Homo sapiens: one gene and its partners. The protein of the gene in region 1 interacts with the protein of each later gene in a pairwise test. Each region holds a gene or a part of one and is shown in the gene's direction. Other genes may lie near its edges. The genes, in order: RBFOX2, RNF8, DMRTB1 and CHERP.

Region 1 (7,029 bases):
AAATTCAGCCTTTCATCCACCATCAAGGTATTAAAGCCACATAGATCTACCTGGAAGTTTCATGTCACCCTCTTTATTTGTGTGTTATTATAATGTGAGCCACATGGCCTAGTTAAGGGCAGCAGAAAGGAATGATCATTGATAATATGCCCCGAGTAGTGGCATGATTTGCGAGAGAAATAGGGGAACTGGTGAATGTTTTCTATTGGTTCAAATGTTGAGTGCATACCTGTGGCATAGTTTCATTGATAGGTGTTGGCAAAGGAGCATGGAGCATAAGGCTGTAGTATTCACAGTAAGCTTTTCAAAAACTTAAGTTTCAAATGCAAATCTAAAGGATGTCTCTGCTCTTCCTAAGCCTTCTGGTAGATAGTACTAGAAATTCCTAAGTGAATGCTTTATAGGATATTTTATTATTGATTATTGATAACAATTGTGGCAAAATATGGTGTTGTTGATAGAAGTATCGAAGAAGTCCATAGAACTAGCATAATTTCTTCTGACCAACCACCTCACTGCAGTATTATTGTGTTGGCTTGGATGCCTCCAGTTTCAGTGATTAGGACTCACAGGCTGCAACAAAGACAGGCCATTCCACAGTGACACCTCTGCCAGGGCTTTCTCTCTAATCCAAAATGCAACTGGGCAACTACCTCTGGACATGGGTAGAGTTGTTTGAAAAGGAGACAGAATGAAATGTAAAATGTAAGACCTAAAGGAATATGAGAAAGCTACTTCTCACACCAAATTTCTACTGATGAAGATTTGTGGAAGGAAGTAATAGGGGGCCCTGAGGGAATATATGTTTATAAATGAAGTAGAGCATTACAATATAACGGCAGTGGTAGAAGTGCCTGAGGTTGTATTTCGTCCTAAAATGATATAAGTCCTATGCTAAAAGAATGACCTGAGAAAGATGCATTCCTGGGAAACTTCTAATTGAAAGAGATAAGCCATTAGATAAAGTCATTTGATAAACATAAAGGAATAAAGCCTAGTTAAAACCCCAGCTAGATATGTAAATGTGAATATGTCAAGAAACAGCCTAGTTGGTGTGCTTCGTAGATGATAGAGGAAACAGACTTTATTAAAGACTGGCTCAGGTTTAGATGTGGCACCATCTCAAACATGGGCTGTGACCACACATGGCAGGGATCGTGTCAGAAGTAACGTGCACTGCCGATGGGTCATATGTGAGAAGGAGAAACTGGTGATCTGTTTTCCACCAGGATTATAAGGCTGTATCAAGGTAAACAAAAACCTGTGCTTTTAAAAATCAAACTCTTTGCGGAACTTGTTTTCAACTGTGTATTGTTTCCCTTCTGTGCTAATTCATGTAAATAATGAAATAAAATGTCGTCATACTCTCCTTGAGAATATCAGGTCAGCAATAAATGTGTTGGGCTCTGGTCTGAGCACCTTAGAAGCAGAAGTTGGTTTCCTGACTTCACTGCACAAGGCAATGCTTGATCAGTTGCTTTGAGGCTTCGAAGCAGGCTGTTTCTAGATCCCTCTCTGGACATTTTTCTTCACTGTTAATGCTTCTCTCATCAACCTTTTAATTATTTTTATCTCTTTAATTACTGCAGGCGAGTTTATACCGAGGTGGCTACAGCCGATTTGCCCCCTACTGAAGTGACGTGAGACCCCTGCAAATGGGACAGCCCCCCAGTTCATGAGGCCTGGCTATTGCAATATTTACTAGTAGAGGAACTCTATAGCAAGATGAAGAGGAAAAACAAACAAACAAACAAAAAAAAACACAAAAAAAGAAAGAATACTTTTTTATACCTCACTATGTTCTTTGAATATGTATTTTTCCTTTAAATTTCTGCCTTTAATTCTTTTGTTCCAAAGATTGTGCATTTTTTTCTTTTTTTTTTTAAACTGTGGTAAAAAAAAAAAAAATAATGCATTTCCATGTCTGTATGTCCGTGCTTAGCTTATTCTATCAATCACGGAAGAGGCAGTCAAGGAGGAAGGAGAGACATTAGGAGCCGATAAATGCATCTGATCAGAAATCAGCAGACAGAATTACCAAAGTGTATCTGGTGCTGAATGACTGGGGGACAAGCAGAAGTGGAAGAGATCTTTCTGCAACAGGATATTCTTCTAGTCTTCTGAGTTTCTGGTCTTTGACAGGCAATTCTGGTTGGCTGTGGCTGGAATCCACATGCTGATAGATAGGAATTTGTGCTTACAAAGCAGGAGAATTAAAAAGACGCTTTCCTCTCCTCTTCCCTCCTGTCTTCTCCGTTCTTTTTACAATCATCTTACACGCACAGCCTGAGACAGCTGGCATAGTTTTTGGAATTATAGTATTGATATTTCCAAACGTGCTCTCAGACAGTGGATAATAAACACCTCATTAGGAAACCGATCTCAGAATGAACTCTGGAGTATGAAAAAGATCATTTCTTTTTGTTCCTGTAACCTAGCATTCCTTCTAGGCTTCTTCTCCTTTAATTGAACCACAGCTTAGCTCATGTATTCTTTTATTAACACCCTGCTCTCATGTCCATAAGATTCAGGAATTTAGGACCCAGGGACAGAAAAGTGAATAAGCCAGTGACCAGATTTCCCCCAGATGTCTTGAGGATTAGAAGTACAAATTGTTGACAGCCATTAAAGAGGGTGAGGAAGGGAAAAGGAATATTAGAAGATCTGGTATTTCTTACTTTTTTCTTGCCTCAGAAAGTACAAAGTTTAAAAAATAGAATAAAGAATCTGCTGGGGAAAGATAGAGTACCAGGTCCTAGGTCAGTAGTCCCTGGAAGTTTTGGTGATGAGGACATGGAAGGGCAGGCAGAGGCACTTTGTACTTGCTCCAAAGCCATAGGAATTTTCATCTTCCAGAGCCTTTATGAGTCACTTCTCTATCCACAGTCTTGAGCCTGTGGCTATCCCGCTGAGCTTCTCACTGTCCTCCAAAAACACCCCGCTGAGCACCCGGACCACTTTGTACACATTAACACTACAGGACATAAAATGCAGAGGCCCTGAGATTGCTGCCCTCCCATATTGGAAGGAGGGTCTGCGATGGCAAGGGTCTTCTATATCACCAGAAAGAGTCGCGCAGTGAGTCACTGCCGTTGCCATCTGGCTGTAATTTTCTATGTTATCAAGGTAGGAGGGAGTGTTTCTCTTCTAGCTGTTAGATAGAACTGATAAAAGCAAGTGTCCTACAGCATTTCCCAAATGAAGGCATTAGGAAATAGAAAAGCACGGTCTTTTTGGCTCCCTGGTCTAGTCACATTGGTACTAGGGTGACCTTTCACCCAAGGGACAGCTGCTAAAGGGAGTAATTCAGAGACATGGAGCTTCTGGTTATGGGTTTGTTTTGGGTTTGTTTTTAACTCCTGCCTCCACACATGTTCTTGACTGATAACTGACTCATGTCCCTGAATTAAAATGACTGACCTATGACAGCATCAAGCATTCTTTGTAAGCAGAGTGATATATCTGAGAGGGCGTTGACCTGTTGTGTAGAATACATATCCTTTCCCCCTTCAGAATCCTGTCTCGCCTCGTAACTGGGAGAGAGGCTGTGCCTGAAACTAGGGGCGATGTCAAGGAAGCTAGAGGCCTCGATGCAATTATTACTGACTCTGGGGAGGAAGACAGAGAATAAGGGGACACCAACTGCCCAGTCCACTGGCCATTTTTAAGGGTCCCCCCACCCCAAGCCAAAGTTTGGTTTGTTGCTGTTAAGACAATTTTTGTTGTATGTATATAAATATTTTAGTTAGAGGAGCGGGGAATGGGATGCGGGCTTTCACAGTTCTAGGGAATGGGGGCAGGGAGGATTTTGCTTTTGCTTTTGCTTTGAGGGAGAACTTTAGCTGACTAAAAAAACAGAAGTTTGGGGTCATGATCACAAAGGGGCCATTCCCAAAAGATGGCAAGCCACGTATTCAGTGGAGACTAGGCCAAATTCTAAATGGTTTTATCCATAGCAGGGGAGAATAGGAGAATGAGTTTAAGAGTTTTTCTCTTCTTTTTTCCTAGAAAGAGGTAAGGATAATGGGAAAGGTAGAGAAGGCGGCTCCCACAGACCTTTTAAGAGAGGCAGAATCTTGAGCTTGAGGCACCTTGAGTGCATCTCAGTTCAGCTGGTTCTGGCTGAGGCCTCCAAAGGCAAGCTCTGTGCTTTCCAGTGGTTTCTGCTGCATTTCCAGGGATGGTGTTTAACACCGCTTCCTCCAGCTCCCTTTTCTAAGAAAGAATAAATGGAGTTCTGCTTTTTATGAAAGGGTCTTTGGTTTTCAGTGTCAACACTGAGAATTGGGGCTCTTGCAAGCATCTGGATTTCACAGTATCAACCTCCCCGTCACCTTTTGAACTTTGAGACTCCGTACGGTCAACTTCACCAGAGGCAGGTTGCTCGAAGCAGCACTGCTTGTCTGTTCCTGACTCTGGTTCTCACTGTATTAAAAAAGAGAGTCAGAGGAGTCTGGCATTTCGTGAGTTTGTTAGAGGATGCTGGCTGATAATTCCAGAAAACTTACTGATGCTAAATCACAGTACATGCATGATTCTTTTTCAGCTTTACTATAGTTCATGACCTGGACTTTCTGTACTCTTGGAAGCTGGGCTCCTTAAAGGAGGCCTCTAGTGAACACCTTTATCTCCATGTCCCTCTTAGAGCCCAGAGAGCTGCCCATAGGCATTTTCCAGAATTCCTCATGTCACCTAGTTCAATTTCCATTAACTCAGATCAGCCATTGTGATTCACCATTTGTCAGGCTCTCAGGTTTAACAAAACCTACTATCACCATCATCCTTCAACAGCCACAGTCTGAATTGAGCCAACATTTTTTTTTCTTTGAGAAAGAAGTGGACTGGGGCACAACTTTTAGTCTGAGGGGAGCTAGTGGAAATCTAGACAATAGAAGTCATCGATAGCAGCTTTTCCTCAAATGTGTGACTCCTCAGGGGCTAAACTGCTCTTAGCTTAGAATTATGCTTTACTAGAGATCTAGCAGATAAGTGGGTTAATCACTACCATCCTGTAACTAGTTATATAGCTTCCAGACATGAGGGAGACATCAAACAGGGATGGAAGCAACCCCAAGGATATGCAAGAAGGGCATGATGAACCCCCTTCCCTCTGGCAGGAGAACAAGGCCAACCAAGGGACAGACTGGAAAGCACTTAGATGTTTAAGGAGGAGAAAGGGGAAGCTTTGACCAGTCCTTGCCTTTTGCCAAGTTCAGCCAGTTCTCCGCTGCTTGCAACCTCTAGCGCAGTAACATTTGCAGAATTGCAGATTTTCCCCCAGATACTAGGAGGAAAGGGACTTTGGGGGGTGGGGAAGGGGTCGTGGTGTTTTAAAAGCATAAGTTACCTGTTTGCACTGTTTTAAGATAGGAAAAAAAAATAGTGGGCAAGGTGAACATCAGACGTAAATTTGTGTGTTTTTATTTTGTCATGCTCTTGAAAATGTTTGACCATTTGTAGTATACACAGTGAAACTTGATTCTCTGTTGCATAAAACACTATATTTTTTTGGAAATGTTACTGTCCAAAAGCCTCTTCCCTCCCTTTCCTTTTCCTATGTACTTCCTTCATACTTGCTTTACTGATCAGCCAGGCAATAGCCATCCAAGAGCTAGAGCATGAAACAGGGCCCTTTCCAAGTAGGCTCTGGGTGTCCTAAGCCAGCGTGTGCCCTCTGGTTTAGTGAGTGTAATAGAGTCCCTGGCACCTTTCTTTGCAAATGAGGCTAACAGACCAGACTGCAGCAAGTTATCAGATTCCTCAATCAGATGCACTAGGAGTGAGGAGCCCAGGGATGGAGGGGGTTCCTGAAGTATTGCAGTTGGCTGTAGTAGCTGAGTTCTTTTCCATGTTACCGAAACTGTAGCCAGTTACAGTTTACTCAGGAAAACGGTAGATCAATTCAGCCATGGTAGTGCTGGTTGGCAGGGATTGGTAACGGAGAGAACTGCTCATCAGCCAAAACTCAAGCCTTGCCTTTTAGGAGGCCACCAGCAGAGGGACTTGGTCCTCCTTGTCTGGTACTTGTGTACATGCCGGTGACCTGAGGACTCCACTCACACTGGCGAGCAAAAAGGGAGCAGTGATTCTCTTTTCTCTCCCCACCCCCTGCCCTTTGTTACCAACACCAGTTTCCCAGGGGGTACATGAGTTTCTGAATTTTTAAAAAATGTTTTTGGTTTGGTTTTTCTGGGGACTGATAAGTGCTTTAAGCAATGTCCATACCCCGTCAAGACTCCCAGCTTAGTCATTTTCTTGTATTTTTCTGTTCACAGTATTTGTGTGTGTGCTTGTTTTGGCAGCTCATTTTGGCTGTATTATATATTGAGTGATGAATTGATCCTCTTTTTTCCCTAAGGGATATGAATTGTTTTTCTTGTGTTATATTCTGCTTGTGAATAGCTGGAGCAAACCTGGGGCTGACACGCGTAAGCTAGGGCTGCAAAGCGAGAAGAGAGCCGGTGGAGTGTACTTGTCCCTGACAGGCTGACCTACCTGAGTCTCTGAGCTTTTCAGTCCAAATCTTTGCAAGGCTCAAAATGCCACAGAACCTCTCCTCTTCTCCCCACTCCCCATGGCAGGGACCGGACCATCCCTACATGCAACATGCTGTTCCTCCAGCCCCTCCCATTGCCATGGCAAAACAGGTACCTTTGGGGCATGGGGGCATTACATGGGATGCTTGTGTAATCGACCACCTAGCCTTCTCTCTCCCCTCCCGTCCTCCCCCAGAATCACTTCCTAGGACACCCGAGCTGCTTGCCCAGGGTCCTGTTTCCCTGCTAACTCCAGAGAAGCATCCCAGGGCTTTGTGACAGTCTCTAATTCCCTTCCCTTCTCGTTAAGAATCATATTGTATAGTAGCTTTCAGACCATACAGTATTCATTGGGTTACTCCTATTATTATCAAGTAGCTGGAATTGTGAAGGTCGGAGTAGTTAGATCTTTAGCTTTTATTCCTTATTTTTTTGTATTACTCTCCATGTGTATAAATTATTGATCATGTTGCTGGCTTTTATAAACTCTAAG
Region 2 (7,029 bases), on another chromosome or scaffold:
ACGAGGTCAGGAGATCGAGACCATCCTGGCTAACATGGTGAAACCCCGTCTCTACTAAAAATATAAAAAATTAGCCAGGCGTGGTGGCGGGTGCCTGTGGTCCCAGCTGCTCTGGAAGCTGAGGCAGGAGAATGGCATGAACCTGGGAGGCGGAGCTTGCAGTGAGCCGAGATCAGGCCATTGCACTCCAGCCTGGGGGACAGAGCGAGACTCTGTCTCAAAAAAAAAAAAAAAAAAAAATTGAGTGAAAGAAGACAGACACAAAAGAATACATATTATATGATGCCATTTATACAATGTTTAAAACCAGGCAAAATTTACATGTGCTGTTAAATCTGGATAGTAGTCACTTTATTGCCAAGGTGGCTACTGACTAGAAGGAGACACACAGGGGTTTCTGGGATGCTGATAATGTGGGGTTTGTTTTGTTTTTGACCTTATGGTAGTTACACTAAGATGTTCATTTTGTGACTGTTCATCGAGTTGGTACATTTATGATTTGTGCACGTTTATGTTTGCATGTTCCGCTTTAGTAAAGACTTTAAAAAATATATTGACGGATACATACTTAATACAATTGCTGAAATAAGACTTGATGATACCAAGTGCTGGCAAGCATGCAGAATAACTGGAACTCCTCAACATTCAAGTGTGAATATAAAATGGTACCTCCACTTTGAAAAACTGGTGGTTTCTAAGAGTCAAATATATACTTGTCCAGTGATCCTATTTCTAGGTATTTACCCAAGATTAATGAAAGCTTATGTTCTCGCAGAAACTTGTATGTGAATGTTTCTAGTGGCTTTATTTTTTTTGTTTTTATATTTTGAGATGGAGTTTCGCTCTTTTTGCCCAGGCTGGAGTGCAATGGCGTGAACCCGGCTCCCCAAACCTCTGCCTCCCGGGTTCAAGTGATTTTCCTGCCTCAGCCTCCCGAGTAGCTGGGATTACAGGCATGCGGCACCACGCCTGGCTAATTTTTGTCTTTTTAGTAGAGGTGGGTTTCACCATGTTGGCCAGGCTGGTCTTGAACTCCTAACCTCAGCTGATCCACCTGCCTCGGCTTCCCAAAGTGTTAGGATTACAGGCGTGAGCCACCACACCTGGCCTGTAGTGGCTTTATTAATATTCACCAAAAACTGGGAAAAAAAACAACTAGGGAATGGATAAACTGTGCTCCACCCCTACTACCTTCAATATTACTCAGCAATAAAATATAACAAACTGCCGATAATGCAACAGTGTGGACGAATCTCAGAGGCGTTACACTAAGTGAAAGAAGCAAGACTCAAAAGTGTAGATAATAAGATTCCATTTGTATTACATTCTGGGAAAGAGAAGAGAACAGATAAGTAGTTGCCTGGGAATGCGGGAAAGGTTGACTACCAAGGGGCACTGTTTCTTGATATAGTTACACAACTATATGTGTTTATAGATAAATGTAACTTTTAAAATACTGATACTTAGTTCCTATCTCAGACCACTTAACTCACTCCGAGGGTGAAACCTAGGCACTGCTCTTTGTTTTAAACCTTCCCAGGTAGTTTTACTGTATAGCCAGGGTTGAGAACCACTGAGCTACGTAAATTATCTAAAGCACTCCAAGAAAACATTGTCTTTTGGTTTGAGTGTCCACTTTCCTCAATAACTGTTTAAAAGCAGCTGGACAGAGATTGAGCATCTAGTGAAGTAATTCCTGTCTAAGTGGATGTGAATTATCCCACTTTTTTCCCATTGGTGGCTAGGACACATCAGGCAGACTTTTCTGGGTATCATTTTCTGCTGCTAGCATTGTTCAAATGGGTAGTTATGAAAACCAACATTAAGAAAGCCTTGAACAGAGCATGATTATTTAAGCCATTGTATTTGAGATCATATCTGGCAGTACTTGATTGTTCTGTACCGCCATGGGATTTTTGTCCTTTTCTAGTCTCCTTATATGAACAGACCTGACTCAGGGCTTGGTTTAAATTATACCACTAGATGTCACCAAGAAGTAATGAATGGGTAAATGTACAAGGATCCAAGGACAAAATGTGATGGGAGAATTTTGAGTTTACCTTCCAGCTTCTAAAAGGGCTCTGAAGGCAATGGGTTAATGTAGAGGATCTAATGGAAGGCTGCAACATATCGTGAAAGTTTGCCCCAGCTTCTGAGGGCAAACTTACTCTCTTTAGCTGTGGACTGTCAGAACTCAGAAGTTCTGAGGGCAAACTTCCTACTCTCTTTAGCTGTGGGCTGTTTCTGTAATCTTATTTATTTATTTTACCTTATCTTAGCTTTGGAGACTTCCTTTAAATTTCTGTACCTTGGCATTAGGTGGCCTTCTGTGTCTTACTACTTTTTCTGAGACCTTTTTCCTGTGTATAATCTAAAATCGACTGTCCTGCTCTAAAATTGTTCTCAGATAGATTGTTCTAGCTCCATCCCTCTCTGTTGTTATTTCTCATATGTTGTTTCAAAATTCAGCAAACCTTATCACTCCCCATAGTTTCTCAGGCTGAATAGAAAGAGTGTGAGGAGGTTTCCTAGATGAACCAGGTTAGGCCCAATGCACAGTGGGTTAAGACTAATATTTCTGTATGTATCTATGCCAGTCTTTCTTTCCGTGTAAACCAAGTAATGGAAGATAAAACTGGAAACAAGGGCCTAATGCCAAACCAGAGCTAAGATCTGATCTCTACTTTCCCTTTACCCTCTGTGCCTTGTGGTCAAGCCCCCTGTCCCTCATATTTGGGTTGACTGGAGATTTTTTTCTAGCTGAAAGTAGGTAGCTGTAGTTGCCAGTGTAAACATAAATCTTGGTCCCAATTCAGAAGTGAGCTTCATCTCTGGCCTATCCCCTGAACTTAAGTCCTTGATACGGGTTAAAATGCTCACCAGTATATTTCAACTCTGAATCTTGCCTTTGTTTCAAGTCTATTTTAGGACCTATCATCTCCATTTAGCATCCCATAGCTATCCCAGCTGCACATGATATTCCTTTGCATTTACAGGCTATGCCATGTAATCCCACATTTGCTCATTTGTGCCCTTGTGTTGTCTTTTCCACCATCAGCTGCTGAAAGCTTTCATGTCCTTTTCACTCAATATATTTACCTTGCGTGACATTGAGCATAGAGTTGAAATGATTGTTGATGAATCAGTTGAACCAAGGCATAGTAATAGTAGTGAACACTTACGTAATACGATGCCCAGGCACTGTCTAAATACTTGCCATATGTTATCTCATTAAATCCACACAGACACCATGAGGGAGAGACTTATTTTCCTCCATTTTATCAGTGCAGTAACTGGGCCATAAAGAGGTCAAGAAACCTGGCCAACATCACCCAGCTGCTAAATGATAGAGCCACATTACAAACCCAGGCAGTCTGACTCCAGGATCTGTGCTCTTAACCTCAATACTATGACTTCATTAAAACCATAAAAGTAAATTTTTATTTTATTTTATTTATTTTGGAGACAGAGTCTCGCTCTGTCACCCAGGCTGGAGTGCAGTGATGCAATCTTGGCTCACGGCATCCTCTGCCGCCTGGGTTCTAGTAATTCTCATGCCTTGGCCTCCCAAGTAGCTGGGATTACAGGCACCCACCACCACACCTGGCTAATTTTTGTATTTTTAGTAGAGAGGTGGTCTCACTGTGTTGGCCAGGGTGGTCTTGAACTCCTGGCCTCAAGTGATCCGCACACCTCGGCCTCTCAAAGTGCTGAGATTACAGATGTAAGCTGCCACTCCCAGACAGTAAATATTTATTAAGCATTTATTCTATGTGAGTCATTGTGCTAAGTGATTTACATGCATTATCTTATTCATTCCTCACTGGAACAGTGTGAGGTAGGTACTGTACCATCCCTGTTCTGCAGACAAAACTGAGGCATGGAGAGGTTAAGTAAATTGCCAAATGCTATGCAGACTATGAACCCACATCTGAGTCCAGAGCTCCAGCTCTTAACCGCTATCCTGTATTGCCCATATACCCCTGTTGATATTAATTGGGTCAGATCCTACCTGCCATTTGACCCCAGTACCAGATATAGTACTCTCTTTTTTTTGGTTTATGTGTGCTTGCTTGCTTACCAGTGCGTTAAGGAACCACATCCAGAGATAGCATTTGAAACTACTTCATGGACCTCACCCTTAGCTACTGCTTTCTTCACTAATAGCATTTTTTCTAGTTTTGGGACATTGCTCCAGTTTAGGTTAATAGGAGCTATCCAATTTCAGTTTCCTTTAATGCTATTCCATGTGTTTGAGTAAATTATCCACCAATAATAAGGTGATTCCTGCCTGTTATATGGCAGTTCTCTGTGGAGGCATGAATGTGAAATATAGGTAAAAAGCCAAAGCACTGCTTGACGAATGCTGTTTCTAAGGATGGTCGTTTATGAATCTTTCTTTTCTATTTGTTATCAAGAGTTTTCCTTCTGAAAAGGCAGAAGATTTTACAGCAGCAGGAGAGAGATTCCTTTAAGAAGACGAAAATCATGAAGCTTATTTCTTCTTTCTTTCACTTTCCCCAGAGTCTAAATGGTGTTTGGCTGAACAGAGCGCGTCTGGAACCTTTAAGGGTCTATTCCATTCATCAGGGAGACTACATCCAACTTGGAGTGCCTCTGGAAAATAAGGAGAATGCGGAGTATGAATATGAAGTTACTGAAGAAGACTGGGAGACAATATATCCTTGTCTTTCCCCAAAGAATGACCAAATGATAGAAAAAAATAAGGAATTGAGAACTAAAAGGAAATTCAGTTTGGATGAATTAGCAGGTCCTGGAGCTGAAGGCCCCTCAAATTTGAAATCCAAAATAAATAAAGTGTCTTGTGAATCTGGTCAGCCAGTGAAATCACAGGGGAAAGGTGAAGTGGCCAGTACACCCTCTGACAATTTGGATCCTAAGTTGACTGCCCTTGAGCCAAGTAAGACCACAGGGGCTCCCATTTACCCTGGCTTCCCCAAAGTCACAGAGGTTCATCATGAGCAGAAAGCCTCAAACTCTTCAGCATCTCAGAGAAGCTTACAGATGTTTAAGGTGACCATGTCCAGGATTCTGAGGCTCAAAATACAGATGCAGGAAAAACATGAAGCCGTTATGAATGTGAAAAAGCAGACCCAAAAGGGGAACTCAAAGAAAGTTGTGCAAATGGAGCAGGAACTTCAGGACTTACAGTCCCAGCTGTGTGCAGAGCAGGCTCAGCAGCAGGCAAGAGTGGAGCAACTAGAGAAGACTTTCCAGGAAGAGGAACAGCATCTTCAGGTACCACACAGAAGGGAAGGGCAAGAGTGGTCTTCAGGGGTGGGGCAGGCACTTCATGAGTCTCTGGCCAGAGTTCTCAGTTTCTGGGCCAGGTACCAAATTCTGAGCACCAAAGACAGGAAATGGAATGGGAACAGTAAACTTTTGAGATAAGGGAAGGGGATTGAGTAGAGGGTTAAGGCTTCAGCATGCTGATGAGATCAGGAGCCAGAGTTAGAGTGCCAAGATAGGGTAAAGTGACCAGCAGAGCCAGCCAGGGCATAACTCATCCCAGGAGGCAAAGCTGAGGCAACTCAGAACCAACATGAATTCAGGGGGAAGTTAGGTGAAGGTCAACATGCCACAAAACCACAGTATAGTCCAATTGAATCAATAGTTGTCTTCAAGACTTGTGTATCTTTGCTCTGTGGCCAAGGCCAAATCACTTAGTCTCAGGGCAGGTACAGGTCAGCTGGTTCCTCTGCCCTGGTACCTGACAGTTTGTTAGCTATAAAGGTTAGTTAACTCTGTAGCTAAGCCAGGAGGTGAGGGGCTAAAAAGGCAGAAAATGTTTTTGTTTCTATTTTGAGCAGCCAGCATGTGATGGGACAGATGCACCATGACTGCATTGTTGGGTTGAATGATAAACCACCTTCCACAGTGCCTATAGTAGGAAGGTAAAATAATGACTGTCTTAGCTGTATAAAGGTAAGACCAAATGTATTTCCATCCCTCAGTCATTTGCTTAGATGACAAGCTCTTGCACAAAGCTTTAGGCTAGAGCAGATCCTGTCCCTGCTCAAAATGTCATTTCCTATCTGGCAGGAACCACATATTTTGCTCCCACCCAGTTGCTCAGATAATATTGAATGTCAAGAATTCCCCATTGTTGACTTAGAACTCAGACGGACCAGTCACAACTAAAGTGAATAAGCTTTTTGTTTGGGTTGCTCAGGGTAAGGAACAGCCAGGGGTAGTGTTGGCTTATTTCTGAGCAATTTATAAATTTCATTCTGATCTCTGCCATCCCCTTGAACTGACAGTATTAGCAAAGGCCATGGATTAAATAGGTCTTTTGAGAGTATACACTGCTTACTTATGTGTACCTTTTTGCTTCCCTTATCCAGCCTAGACTAGTTCTTGAAATTAATAGAGGGTGGTTTATGTCTACGTGTTTAGTATATCACACCTTCACCAGGACAGAACTCTCTGTAAAGGCTAATATGTTCAGGAACAAGTTACTGTTGCTTAATATTTGTGGCTGCTCTGGACATGCCTCAAGGTATAGCTGCAAAATCTTTTTCTGTACCAAAATGTTAAAGGCGAAAGGATTGGTTTAGAGAATTTCTCTGGGTATGAGTTGGTTGTGTATATGATGCTCATAGTGAAGTGTATCTAGTCCCTTGTTTATCAGCTGCATCTCCCTCTGCCCACCAAGCCCTGAGGATTTATCCTATCCCCTACTGCTGGTTTAGAAGCTCATTAAACCCTTGCTCCTTCACACTTTTTTTTTTTTTTTAAGTACTCAAATTGCCTGGTACTAGGGAATTCTAGTGGTTATAAAGATGCTTACCAAATGGTTTTTGCCATTAAGGAATTTATCTTGTTGAGGAGGCAAGATGTTTCCTGCACACGATATAATCAGAGAATAGTTTTCAGTCAATATAGTAAATTAGAGAACAATTTCAAGTTGGCATATTAAATGGGTAGGTAATTCTTAAGGACAGAAGGGCCCAGAAGTTCTTTTGGAAGGTGCTGGACATATAGGTTAATGATCACCTGGAAAGCTTC
Region 3 (5,619 bases), on another chromosome or scaffold:
CAGTGTGGAGCCAGTCCAATGGGGCTCGAGCTTCACCCGGGCAGGTTGGGCACACAGGTCACTGGGTCCTCACTCCTGCTTCAGCCTGGCGGCAGCAGCTTCTCTTCCACTTATCTTAGATGTTGTGAGATTGTGCTTAAAAATCATTTTCCACTGATTCAAGGGAAGAAAGTTTGAAAGCCACTGGCCTTGATAATTCCAGGGTGTCTATTGAACCTTCAAGGCAGGTATTATACCCCATTGTAGCATCGAGAAAAAAAGGCTCAGAGAAGTTAAGTTTTTGGCCAGGGTCACAAAACTGGTGAGAGAGAGACTGGGATTCCAGTTACACAGCTGGTTGGTGACAGAGCCGGGTCGTGCACCTCAGTCGCCCTGACTCTGGAGCCCAGGTGCTTTCCACTGCCCTTCCCTCCCTCCCACAGAGGTAGAACACACATGGCCCTTGACTCACACCAGCACTGCTGCCTGCCTGACATCTGTGGGCACTGCCCAGGGAGAGCCAGGCATCTCCAGCCTCCACACAAAGAGAGGGGCTCTGGCCAAGTAAAGCACGTTCCGTCTGCTCACACAGAAGTCTGGAGCCTGGCGTCCAGGGCAGCGCTCTGATTGACAGGCCTGCCAGACGGCCTTTGTTAAGAGTGTGATCTCAGTCGGTTTATCTGGGCCTGAGCTGCCACCACAGGCCCCAGGCAGGAGCTGTGATCCAGGGAGATGCTTGGCTGAGAAGCTTGGAATTAAAGCACTAATAATCCCTCTTCCACCCTCTCAAGTCTGGAGAGAGAATCAGGCATTGATTTGTGAGCTGTTTCAAACCCAAGAGCCCCTGAATCACTTTCATCCTTGTCCTGCTGCCCCCTGCCAAGGCTTGGAGGTGCTCTCCAGAACAGTTTCCTCCTTCCTGTTCCTGTCCCTGCCCACCTGCTGCTGCTTGGCTTCCTCTGCCCTCCTGTTCACAGGACAGCACTGGCCCTGGAGGTGGGCAGACCTAGGGTCCAATTCTGCCTCCCCCGTCGTGTCCCAGCCACGTGACCCGTGGCAGTTATCTGACCTCTGAGGACCTCACTCGGGTCTTGGTCTGTAAAATGGGAGTGAGAGGACCTATCTATTAGGGCTCCTGAGAATAGATAAGGCGATGCATGTAAAATACCTAGCACAGGGTCTGGCACATAGTAGGTACTTAAAAGTGAGATTTCTTCCCTTCCTGCTGGTTGAACGAAGTTAGGAAGTGCTGGGTTAATCTAAGGAGATTTTTGCAGACTCTTCCAAGCCTTTAATATGCTCATGTGTGACCCACTAATGTGGGGAGCAGTATATGGGGTTTCTCAAACTCACTTAACAAAGAACACTTTTAAGAGTACTAAAAAATACTTTGTAGGACACCAGGACTCCATGAAACTCAGCTCAGGATGTGTTGCTCTGAAGCATCTGGATAGAGAAGTGAATGACAGGAACTACATCCAAAACTCAGTATTATTTCTTACGACATTTGTGTGTTTCTTGGTTAAGCTCTGAGTTGTGCAGTCATCCCCTCTCCAGATCCTCTGATGGGGCCCTGTGCTGTGGTAAGGGGTTGGATTCCATCCCTTGAAGAAGGGACAGAAGCAGCAAAATGTTCATCAGTGAGGCCACTTGCCTGAAGTCACCCAGTGTATCTTGCCTCAGAAACAGCTGCGCTACACCCACATTGCCAACCTCTTCTCCCAAAGGCCCCCCTGGCACTTGAGTTTAAGTCACCACATGTGCCAGACAGGGGGTCCTGTGGGGTTGGGATGCGTTCAGACCCTTCCCCAGTGCAGAGCAGCGCTGGACAGAAGTCAGCTGAGTGGGCTATGGAGTCAGCCAACTTGGGATCCAGTTCTGCCCCTTAACCACAAAGCAGCTCTGCGGCCCTGGGCCTGTAGCTTCATCTCACTGAACCTGTTTTTCATAATTACAGCAAGAATAGTAATAGAACCCACCGCCTAGGATTCTGAGCACCCAAGCACAATCGCCCTGGCATATACAGAAGGGCTCTGTCACTGTGACCGTTCAGCTGTTCCCATGCTTATCTGAGGTTGCCTGTGTTCCTTCTTGCCTTCAATAATTTGGCAGGTGTTTGCTGAATGCCCCCTTCCAAATGCCCTGTGCCTGTGTGTTTGGGGCCGTGCATCTACCCCATCAGGAGCCCCCCACTTCAGGGGTGAGAGCTATGTTTGGTCAGCCCATCTGGCTAACTCTCTCTCCTCTCCGCCTCTCTGCTGTGTGTGCCGTGCAGGTGTCAGAACCAGGAGGAGACTTCCAGCCAAGCTACTACCTGCCGCCGCCGCCGCCGCCACTGCCGCCCCTTCCACCGCTTCCACCGCAGCCCCAGTTCCTCCCGCCAGGCTACCTCTCTGCGCTCCACTTCCTCCCCCCGCCACCGCCACCACCACCTCCATCATCTTTCTCACTGACCGTCCTGTTTGATACTGACAAGGAGAACACTGGTGAGTGAGCTCCAGTCTTCCAGCTTCAGCGAGAGCCAGGGAGACTTTCTGGAGGAAGAGGTACCTAATCTGAAGAAAGGTTAGGTGTGGAGAGAAGGGACATGGAATTTAAAGGGTGTTGAGCCCTAGAATGAGCTCCTTCTTACACCCTTCCTCCAGTCCCCATAGGCACACATCTAAGGGAGGTGGGAATGGGATTCCAGGTGAGGAAACCAGGGCCTCCAGCAGTTCTCTTGGGTATAAATGGCAGAGCTGGGATTTGAACAGAGTTTTTCAGTCTAGCTCCCAGTCTAGTGCCTGTTCACTCACCTTATTGGCTCGTGGGCGGTGCTGTGGAAGACAGCAGGCATATGGTGTGTTTGGAAGACCAGAGGTGCCAGGCCTCTCTAGCTGGGGTAGGGGAGCAGATGGAGAGACTGGAGCAGCAGCAGGAACCCGTGTGGTGGGGCTGTGCCTCTGCCCCAGGCCACTCTGAGGGAACCAGACCAGGAGCTAGAGAATCTGTCCTTCACAAGCTCTGCCACTGGGGCACTGGATGATCCTGGGCACTGAGGCTTTTCAACTATAAAAGGGGCCCCCTTACTAGGTTACTGTGAGGGTCGAAGAAACTTTTGGATGTGAAAATGTTTTGGGTTTTCTTTTGAGGGCCCTTGCAGCTTTAAAGCTTCTAGGACATTTTTCCTTTCAGTCTTCCCCTGGGGCTCCTATGATTTGGAAAGAACTGACAAACTCAACTAGGCCTTTAAAATGACTGTCAGACCATCTTATGAGCTAGAGGAGTCTGGTGGTATCACCATTTTACTGAAGAGGAAACTGAGGCCTGTTGCACACTTCCTGTGTGTGCAGTGCCTAGATCCAGTAGCTGGAGAGGTGGTTTCATGTGGCTGAAAACCACTGGCCCCAGTGCTGGGTGGCCTGGGTGTGAGTCCTGGCTCCAGCACTTGCCCAGCTGTGTAACTTGAGCAAGCTCATTTACTCTTTGGTGCTCCAGTTTCATCATGTGTAAAAGGAGACTAATAATGGTCCCTACCTCATGAGGATTCTGAGGATTAAACAGAACCTGAAGTGATGAAGGCATTGGTGAAGGTGGCCTATCACTGTCTGTTTCACTTAGTGCCCATGCTGCCATTGCAAGGTGGATACGTCTCATTTTACAGAAGGGGAAGCTGAGGTTCAGAGCTGTGGAGTATCTTGCTAATTCCTCCCAGCTTGTGACGAGCAGAGCAAGAGCTGGAACTTGAATCTGAATCACATGGCCAAGGCTAGGATTCCAGGCTCCTGGCGCCTAACAAGTTAAAGAAAATACATTCTCCCCTAGGGCTGGGAATGATGAGAAAGGCTTATGGAAAATCTGTATCTGGGCTGGGCACAGTGACTCACACCTGTGATCCCAGCACTTTGGGGAGGGTGAGGTGGGTGGATCACCTGAGGTCAGGAGTTCAAGACCAGCCTGGCCAACATGGGGCAACCCTGTCTCTACTAAAAATACAAAAATTAACTGGGCATGTTGGCGGGTGCCTGTAATCCCAGCTACTCAGGAGGCCGAGGCAGGAGAATTGCTTGAACCTGGGAGGTGGAGGTTGCGGTGAGCTGAGATTACACCACTGCACTCCAGCCTGGGTGACAGAGCGAGACTCTGTCTCAAAAAAATTAAAATAAAATAAGAAAAAAGAAAATCTTCATCTGCAAATAGGTAGTTGTAATTTTCGCTCTTTCTAAATCCAGCTACCTTCTTTGTCCTTCACAGATGACCAGGATGCAGAGGTACTGTCGGGTGAGCCCAGCCAGCCATCGTCTCAGGAGCAGTCCGACTAGGCCCCAGGCCCGCCCTCCTGGCCAGCAGAGTGGGGCACTGGGGGGCAACAGCAACAGTTTTCTTGTCTTCATTCAGTGATATGTAGGGAGGAAGGAGGTTGATAGCATAGATGGCAACTGATTCCCAGTTTAAGATAGGAGGAAGGAGAGCAATTTCTAAGTTTCAATCCTGCGCTGTACAGTTGAAGAAGAGTGTGGAGGAAGCTATTACCAGGGGAGGGCCAGGGCTCTGAGGAGTGGGCGCTGGGAGAAGCTCCCATTTAGGAATGAATTTAACTGTCCTTGGGTTACACTACCATTTATTGGAACAAGCCCCAGAGGCAGTATTTGATTTCCTCAGGCCCCACTCTAGGACAGGAGGCACCATCTATTTCAGCCTTCTGCTGCCTTTGCCTGGTCCTCCAGGTTGCTGGGGGCACCACAGACATCAAGATTCCAGTTCATCCAGGTGGCTGGAGCCAGCAGCCAGGACCAGGGTCGTTGACAGCAGGTTCTGCAGCATCCTGCCTTGCTGCTCTGTCCCCCACATCTTCCTGGCCACAGCCCCTTGCCCCTCCTCTAAGGGGTTTTACTAGCAAGCATCCTGGCTGCTGGGGCTACTTCATTCCCCCTCCATAAAGTTTCAGCCATTATGGGCACTGGTTTTAAAAAATTTATTAGTTTGACTATTTGATGTTTTTATAGTGATTGCCAACTTTAAAAAGTAGGCTGTTCATAAGCACTGATGCAGTCCCTAGGGAATAGAATGGTGCTTCTGATCACCTGTGACATGAACAGTTTCTTCTGTGAGGACAGTTGGCTATTGAAATAAAATGAGCAATGGAAATCCTTGTGGAAGGCTTATTCTCCCTTTGATCCTGGTGGAAGGTAGGGTTGGCAGGAGCCTGAGTTGGGGAGATTGGGGGCCTTGGTTTGTGGCCTGTGGCTGGCCTTGTCTGCACTTGCTTAGTTCCTATTTTTAGTTCCTGCCCTCCCTGTTCTACCTCCCCTTTCTTTATCAAGTGAGGGGATTGGGCCAGGCTAGTAGACTTCTTTATTATTACTGTTGTTATTTTAAGCAATGGAGACCTTTTAAGGAAATCTGATGTAGACACACAAAATGTAAAGATGTCTTAGTTTCCTTCCTCCAGCTCCTTCCATAGTCCCTGCATAGGAACATGCATTTAAAAAAACAGAACTTGAACCAATTCTGTTTTAGGGTCCTCGGCTTCTTCCATTGGTTGCATTTATACCTTCATTTAGAAAACATCCTGTGTTTCTACTAGATTCAGAACTTGACAGTTCCCAGCTCTGCCCATGAGGAACATGACATCTAGTGGGAGAGACAGAGAGTCTTAGG
Region 4 (7,029 bases), on another chromosome or scaffold:
GTCTCTGTGAGCCACCAGGCTTCTGTCTCCAGGACTGCGAGGTCTAGGTGTCCTGTGCACCTTCGCTGCATGCCCTGTCCTCTCCCCTAGACCCCGGCCTCACCTGTCACATTGCTGTCTCCTGGGGGCCACTGTCCCCTGCACTCCTTCCTCTCATGGGGCAGCTTCTTGGCGTCTCCTTGTTGCCTTCTCAGCCACGGCCTCCTTGGCCTCTGTGTCTGTCTCCTGCCCTCGTCACTGATTTGCACGCACACACACGCGGTCACCTGACTTTGCTCAGCCATCAGGACCCTCCTTTGGGATCCCCTTCTCCAGCCCTGACCCATCTCTCAGGCTTCAACAGAGCCACATCTGCCGACCCTCTGTCCCCACCCAGCCCTCACCCTTCCCACTGTTGCTGTCTCCACCCTCCCCAAGGTTGGGTGGGTATTTCCTTCTACAGGGTCACTGGGGCCCTTCTCACAAAAATTAGCAAAAAAGAAAAAAAAAACAATAGAACCCCAGGCCAAAGGCCCGCACGTGCGGGAGGAGACAAGCATTGCTACTGAGCCTAGCGGGCAGCAGTCCTGGCCTGGCGCCTCGTGTGCCTCTACAGTGGGCCAGGCTGCCAGCACCCATCTCGCCCCATCTATCACATGCAGCACTGCCTGAGTCCCTCTTGCCTCCCCACCTCAGTCCCTGTTTCTCTCCTGCTGGGAAGTGAGTTGCGGCTCGGCACCAGCTCTGCCCTTCTGCTCCTCCTCATGCCTCCATTTCTCCCTGCCTCTGAGTCGGGTGCCTTGCACGGATGCACAGTTTCCCGCATTCTCCAGCCACGCGCCTCTCTAGCTCTACTCTGTCCGAAGCCAAGTGCTGCTCGCCCAGCCCAGGCCCTTGCTCCCCTGAGCCCCCTGCGGCAAGCTGAGGGCTGAGGGGCTTCCAGCTGCTCCCCTCCTGTCTTGCGTCCCTCCCCAGGGGCAGCCATCTCCCTGCGCAGCGGCAGGGGCCTCCCAGGCCAGGTATGCACAGTGTCCTGTGCAGCACTGCACAGCAGCCCTGAGAGGACATGGGCCCGGCGCCTCCCCCCGCTGGGCATCCGGTCACTCTTCTAAAGTGTTCTAGGTTCCTGAGGGACTGGGCACCCTCCCTCCTTCTCCCAAGAGGCCTGGCCTGGGCCGAGGTTTCCTTGTGCATAGTGAGTGACAAGGACAAGACCCCCACTCCGCAGCAGTCCCATCCCGCCCATCATACACAGGCAGGGGCTCCCGCCGGCCCATATCCCTTCACCCGCAGCGCCACCCAAGAGGGAAGGAGGGAAGGTTATTTCCTATCAAGGGGACTGGACCAAAAGGCCTTGCTCAGAACGGCCCCAGGCCACGTTCTCTCCCTCCCCTGCTTGCTGTTTTTCCATCTGTCCCTTCCTCGAGCCCAGGCACCAGCACAGGTCTCGTGGGAGCCCAGCCATCGCCCTGACCGGGTTGGGGACCCGATTCCCGAGAAGGCAGAGGGCGCTGAGGCTGGAGCCGCGATGGTAACGGGCGCGTGGCCGGGTCCCGCCCCAGGGCCCTGACGCGCGGAAAGTCTCTCCCTCACAGCCAGCGCAAGCAGGCCCGGGAGCTGCTGGCCGCCCTGCAGAAGGTCGTGGTGCCCATCTACTGCACCAGCTTCTTGGCCGTGGAGGAAGACAAGCAGCAGAAGATCGCCCGGGTGCGTGGGCCCCGGGCCGGGGGTTGGGCAAGACCGGGACACACAGGCCTTTCCCCTCCCCACTGACCCGGCCTCTCTCTCCTCCCACCGCCAGCTCCTGCAGCTCTGGGAGAAAAACGGCTACTTCGATGACTCCATCATTCAGCAGCTACAGAGCCCAGCCCTGGGGCTTGGTCAGTACCAGGTGAGTGTCCCTGCCCACCCACACCTCACCCTAGAGCTGGGGCGGGTTCCCCAGGAGGGTTTGGGAGTGTGGGGACAGCAGCTGCCACCCCAGCAGCCAGAGAGCCCATGTCCCCTGCCTGTGCTAGGAGTAGCCAGTGTGTGTTGACCAGAGAGTCCCAGGTGACATTTCCCAGGCCTTAGGTGTGTCTCCCTGACTTTCCTGGAACACTAGAACCAGGCGGCCTTTCGGAGTCATTGCACATGGCCCATTTGCTCTGGTGGTCAGGCATGTTCCGGTGTGGTGGAAGCATGAGGAAGCCCAGACGTGGCTTAGGCTGTGGCAGCCCCTCTTGCTGAGAGCCACATGGCGAGTGGGAGGCAGAGCCCATGAGCGTGTCCCAGAATGTTGGTGGGCAGTGTTCGCTGAGCAGCCACGAAGCGGCCAGGACACGGCTGTCGTTGCTCGTTCTGTTATCAGGGAGTCGTAAAACACGCTGCAGCGAACATCCTCATCCCCAAATCTCTGGCCAGATCCCAGCGCACACTGATTGCCCAGACTGTGTTGGCTGTTTCACGTGACGGTTCCCTGTCCACCTGCCCCAGGTCCCCCAGGCTCTGCTGCTTTCCAGGCGTTTGTCCTCTGGCGCCAGGCAGCGAGCCCCAAGGCCGCATACTGAGCAGCGGGTGCTCTTCTCTCTCTCAGGCCACCCTCATCAACGAGTACTCCTCAGTGGTCCAGCCGGTGCAGCTGGCCTTCCAGCAGCAGATCCAGACCCTCAAGACGCAGCACGAGGAGTTTGTCACCAGCCTGGCCCAGCAGCAGCAGCAGCAGCAACAGCAGCAGCAGCAGCTCCAGATGCCGCAGATGGAGGCTGAAGTCAAGGCCACGCCTCCACCGCCTGCTCCACCCCCGGCCCCAGCACCTGCCCCTGCCATCCCGCCCACCACCCAGCCTGGTACGGGGCTCCCTCAGCTCAGCCTGCCCCCAGGAAACAGCCCCCAGAGGCTGGGCACCGAGTGTAGTCAGAAAGCAGTCTGCCACCCTCAGACTCAGTTCTTGTTCCCTCGTCCCAGGCCTGCTCCTAGGCCCAGGTTTTCATCCATTTACAAGCACGAGCCAGGTGATCCTAGAGTAAAACTACAACCATCCCATTCCTGAACAGCAGAAGATCTGTTTCCTGTTCCCAGAGAAAAGAAATAGAGGAAAGGTACCCAGATCATTCCCCAAGACTAGGGTAACTATTACATCAGGCAGGAAGGACAATGCACAGACTGAAAATATAATTGGCTAGGCATGGTGGCTTACGCTTGTAATCCCAGCACTTTGGGAGGCCAAGATGGGCAGATCGCTTGAGCCCAGGAGTTTGAGATTAGCCTGGGCAACATGGTGAAACCCCGTCTCTACTAAAAATAGAAAAATGGTGCTCACCTGTCGTCCCAGCTACTTGGGGGCTGAGGTGGGAGGATCACTTGAGCCCATGAGATTGAGGCTGCAGTGAGCTGCATTTACACCACTGCACTCCAGCCTGGGTAACAAAGCGAGACCCTGTCTCAGAAAATACAATCTAGTGTCACTTCTGAAAAAGACACGGAAATACTGAAGGAAATCTTAGCAGAATCTAGCAAAGGATTTTGTTTTTGATTTTTTTTTGAGATGGAGTCTTGCTCTGTCGCCCAGGCTGGAGTGCAGTGGCGTGATCTCAGCTCACTGCAAGCTCCGCTTCCTGGGTTCACGCCATTCTCCTACCTCAGCCTCCTGAGTAGCTAGGACTACAGGCGCACGCAACCATGCCCAGCTACTTTTTTGTATTTTTAGTAGAGACGGGGTTTCACCGTGTTAGCCAGGATGGTCTCGATCTCCTGACCTTGGGATCCACCCACCTCAGCCTCCCAAAGTGCTGGGATTACAGGCGTGAGCCACCGCACCCGGCCTAGCAAAGGATTTTAAAATTACATTCTGATCAAAGAAGATTTGTTGTAGGAATATGAGGATTGTATAGAATAGAAAATAACAGATGTGGGGAAATGACCTTTTAATTAGATACAGTAAAGATGTCTAATCAAATTCAGTGTGGATAGAAATTCTTCAGCAAACCAAGAAGGCAGAAGTGAGGCCTGTTTCTTGTAAAGCTTTGAAAAGGACAGATGTGTGTCATGTTCAAGGTCGAAACCTCCCCTCGCCCTGTCCCCTTCCTGGAAGCCAGTGATAGTCATGGTTTTAGTGGGTCCTGAAGCGATCATCCACTGGGCACTAAAAGCGGTAGCCTGGTTTGCTCTGGGGTAGTGTGGAGAGGAGACAGCGCCTCCTGCTGCCAGGCCTGCTCTAACTGCCTGTCACTTGGATTTAGATGACAGCAAGCCTCCCATCCAGATGCCTGGCTCTTCAGAGTACGAAGCTCCAGGAGGGGTCCAGGATCCTGCAGCTGCCGGCCCCCGGGGCCCCGGGCCACACGACCAGATCCCACCAAACAAGCCCCCTTGGTTTGACCAGCCTCACCCCGTGGCTCCTTGGGGCCAGCAGCAGGTATTGATTGGAACCTGGGGTGGGAGCAGATGGGGCACACTTGGCCTGATGGGGTAGCCTCCCCTATGCCAGTTGGTGGGCGTTGAGTGGCTTACTGGGGAACAATGAGGGATATTCTGTGGCAGAGCTTATGCTGGGTTAGTGACAGCCCTGTCTTCCTGTGGCTCCGGGACAGGTCAAGTGACAGGTCTTCACGTCCCTTCCCCGAGCTTTGATGGTTTGGGCTTCTCTGTAGTATAGATCACCATTGTCCTGCGAGTGCAGGGGAGTTTAACGCTGCAAGGCACGGCAGGGTGTTCTGTTTCCTGTCCTCCTTAAACAGGTTAAGCTAGTTGAGTGTCAGTGTTTTGTCATCCTGGAAAGAACAAGGTGCTTTTGTAAGGAAAGGGGGAATGTCAGAAATGTCAGCCGTGTTGCCCCTGGGAGGCCTCAGATGCAGCTTTGCTATGGGTCACATACCCCTGGGCCAAGGCAGGGGCCACCTTATGTGGCACAGCATGGCTGTGAAATGCCCTGCAGCGTGCTGGGTCCACTTTCAGCACTGAGGCACAGCCCCGGGTCTTCCAGGGCGTGACTTTCCCCCTTGCCCGTGGGGCCTGGTTGGCTTCGCAGCGTGGCCTTTCCAGGTGACTCCCTGTCTGCAGGGACAGGTGTAAGGATGGCAAGGAGACTGGCTCTGGACTGAGACTTGGTGGTTGTGGCTTTGAGCCTCCCATCCCCAGCTTCAGGACACGAAATTGAACCTCACAAAAGATTGGACACCCCCATAAAGACAGCTCCCACCTCCAAGTGCTGGCCAGGAGCCAGATGGTGGTGGCTGTTTTGCAGGTACCCTCTGCTGGGGGGGGCAGTTCTTGTCCCTGTTTTGTAGGTGTGGAAACAGGCCCTTAGTGTCTCCAGGCTCAGTCTTTTTGCAGACCAGAGGGTTGGGCTCAGGACAATGGGCACGCCCCTCACTGAGGGTGCCCGCTAGGCCAGCAGTGCATCCTGCAGTCCACACTGAGAAACAGCAGCCTGGCCTGCTTGACTTGGCCATGTGGGGTCTTAACACGTTTAAAAGTAATTTCTCAAGGCAGGAAGATTGCTTGAGGCCAGGAGTTTGGGACCAGCCTGGGCAACAAGGCAAGACTCCATCTCTACAAAGAATAAAAATAAGCTGGCATGGTGGTGCACACCTGTCGTCCCAGCTACACAGTGGTCTGAGGCAGGAAGATTGGTTCAGCCAGGACTTCAGGCTTCATTGAGCTATGGTCATGCCACTGCATTCCAGCCTGGGTGACAGAGTGAGACCTTGTCTCTAAAAAAGAAAAGCAAGGCTGGGCGTGGTGGCTAACGCCTGTAATCCCACACTTTGGGAGGCTGAGGTGGGCAGATCATTTGAGGTCAGGAGTTTGAGACCAGCCTGGCCAACGTGGTGAAACCTCGCCTCTACTAAAGATAAAAAAATAGCCGGGCATGGTGCCAGGCGCCTATAATCCCAGCTACTCGAGAAGCTGAGGCAGGAGAATCACCTGAACCCGGGAGGTGGAAGTTGCAGTGAGCCAAGATCGCGCCACTGCACTCCAGCCTGGGCAACAGAGCGAGACTGTCTCAAATTAAGAAAAAGAAAAACAAGTAGTTCCTGATATTTAATATCTGGCTCTCTGGCTTCTCTTGGAAGCCTGGTGAATGTGGCAGCCTGGGCCAGCCTCCCCTTAGTAGGGGTCAGCGCAGTTACCCAGCTGTGACCCTAGACACCGGCCTTCTCATTGGCCTCTGTGCTCCTCCCCTCCCCTGCCCAAGCTGGAGTTTGCCCTCCTGGCTTTAAGTCTCCAGAGCAGAAGCTGATGAGGGAAGAGCCTCCCGTCTTCAGTCTACAGGAAGATGCTGGCTTGGTTTGAAAGTCCCCAGAAGCAGACCCCAGGACAAGGATGTGTGTGCCGCAGTGTATCTGCCCAGCAGACGGCTTTTGGGGAGAGGGGGAGTGAGGCAGGGCAGGGGGTGTCAGAGTGAGCCCCGCCCCATGGGTGCCTGGGGTGCCCTGAGAAGCGATACCGTCTGTGCCTCTGCACCTGCCCCTGAGGGGCGAGGGAGCTGGCGTTTGTCTGGCAGTGGTAGCGGGGAGCACCTTGTGGCGCGGGCGGCCTGTGTGCGGGTGCAGCGCGCCCCAGCGGCAGAAACAGCCCCGGGACTGAGATGCGGGTGCAGCGGTTGGGTGTCTGGTCATTTTGCAGCAGCATGTGGTGCGGGCTGAGAGCAGGTGCCCAGCATCCTCGCAGGCGTCAGCGTAGGAGGCGCCTCAACGTGGCCAGGGCAGCGCCTCCATGGTCTGAGCCAGCGCTGTGATGCTGCCGAGCGCTGTGATGCTGCCGAGCACTAGGGCCTAGACCACGCAGGGCTCAAGCCTGTCCCTTCCCTTGCAGCCGCCAGAGCAGCCACCCTACCCGCACCACCAGGGCGGCCCACCCCACTGCCCCCCCTGGAACAACAGCCATGAGGGCATGTGGGGCGAGCAGCGCGGTGACCCCGGCTGGAACGGCCAGCGCGACGCGCCCTGGAACAACCAGCCCGACGCCGCCTGGAACAGCCAGTTCGAGGGCCCCTGGAACAGCCAGCACGAGCAGCCGCCCTGGGGCGGGGGCCAGCGCGAGCCACCCTTCCGCATGCAGCGGCCC

Evidence for each region.
Region 2: the proteins of RBFOX2 (region 1) and RNF8 interact in binary tests that used the Homo sapiens proteins (3 or more experiments, as listed by UniProt).
Region 3: the proteins of RBFOX2 (region 1) and DMRTB1 interact in a two-hybrid assay, tested with the Homo sapiens proteins (3 studies listed by BioGRID).
Region 4: the proteins of RBFOX2 (region 1) and CHERP interact in binary tests that used the Homo sapiens proteins (3 or more experiments, as listed by UniProt).

What each region holds. Positions count from the first base shown.
Region 1 is NC_000022.11:35,738,810-35,745,838, reverse strand, and holds part of RBFOX2 (RNA binding protein fox-1 homolog 2), read left to right. Parts: intron 1-1,589; coding exon 1,590-1,634; coding exon of another isoform or gene 1,635-1,644; 3' UTR 1,645-7,029. UniProt on the Homo sapiens protein: RNA-binding protein that regulates alternative splicing events by binding to 5'-UGCAUGU-3' elements. Prevents binding of U2AF2 to the 3'-splice site.
Region 2 is NC_000006.12:37,363,960-37,370,988, forward strand, and holds part of RNF8 (E3 ubiquitin-protein ligase RNF8), read left to right. Parts: intron 1-4,418; exon of another isoform or gene 4,419-4,524; coding exon 4,525-5,259; intron 5,260-7,029. UniProt on the Homo sapiens protein: E3 ubiquitin-protein ligase that plays a key role in DNA damage signaling via 2 distinct roles: by mediating the 'Lys-63'-linked ubiquitination of histones H2A and H2AX and promoting the recruitment of DNA repair proteins at double-strand breaks (DSBs) sites, and by catalyzing 'Lys-48'-linked ubiquitination to remove target proteins from DNA damage sites.
Region 3 is NC_000001.11:53,462,383-53,468,001, forward strand, and holds the end of DMRTB1 (doublesex- and mab-3-related transcription factor B1), read left to right. Parts: intron 1-2,254; coding exon 2,255-2,465; intron 2,466-4,212; coding exon 4,213-4,280; 3' UTR 4,281-5,106; downstream 5,107-5,619.
Region 4 is NC_000019.10:16,525,426-16,532,454, reverse strand, and holds part of CHERP (calcium homeostasis endoplasmic reticulum protein), read left to right. Parts: intron 1-1,574; coding exon 1,575-1,686; intron 1,687-1,780; coding exon 1,781-1,870; intron 1,871-2,554; coding exon 2,555-2,807; intron 2,808-4,199; coding exon 4,200-4,375; intron 4,376-6,777; coding exon 6,778-7,029. UniProt on the Homo sapiens protein: Involved in calcium homeostasis, growth and proliferation.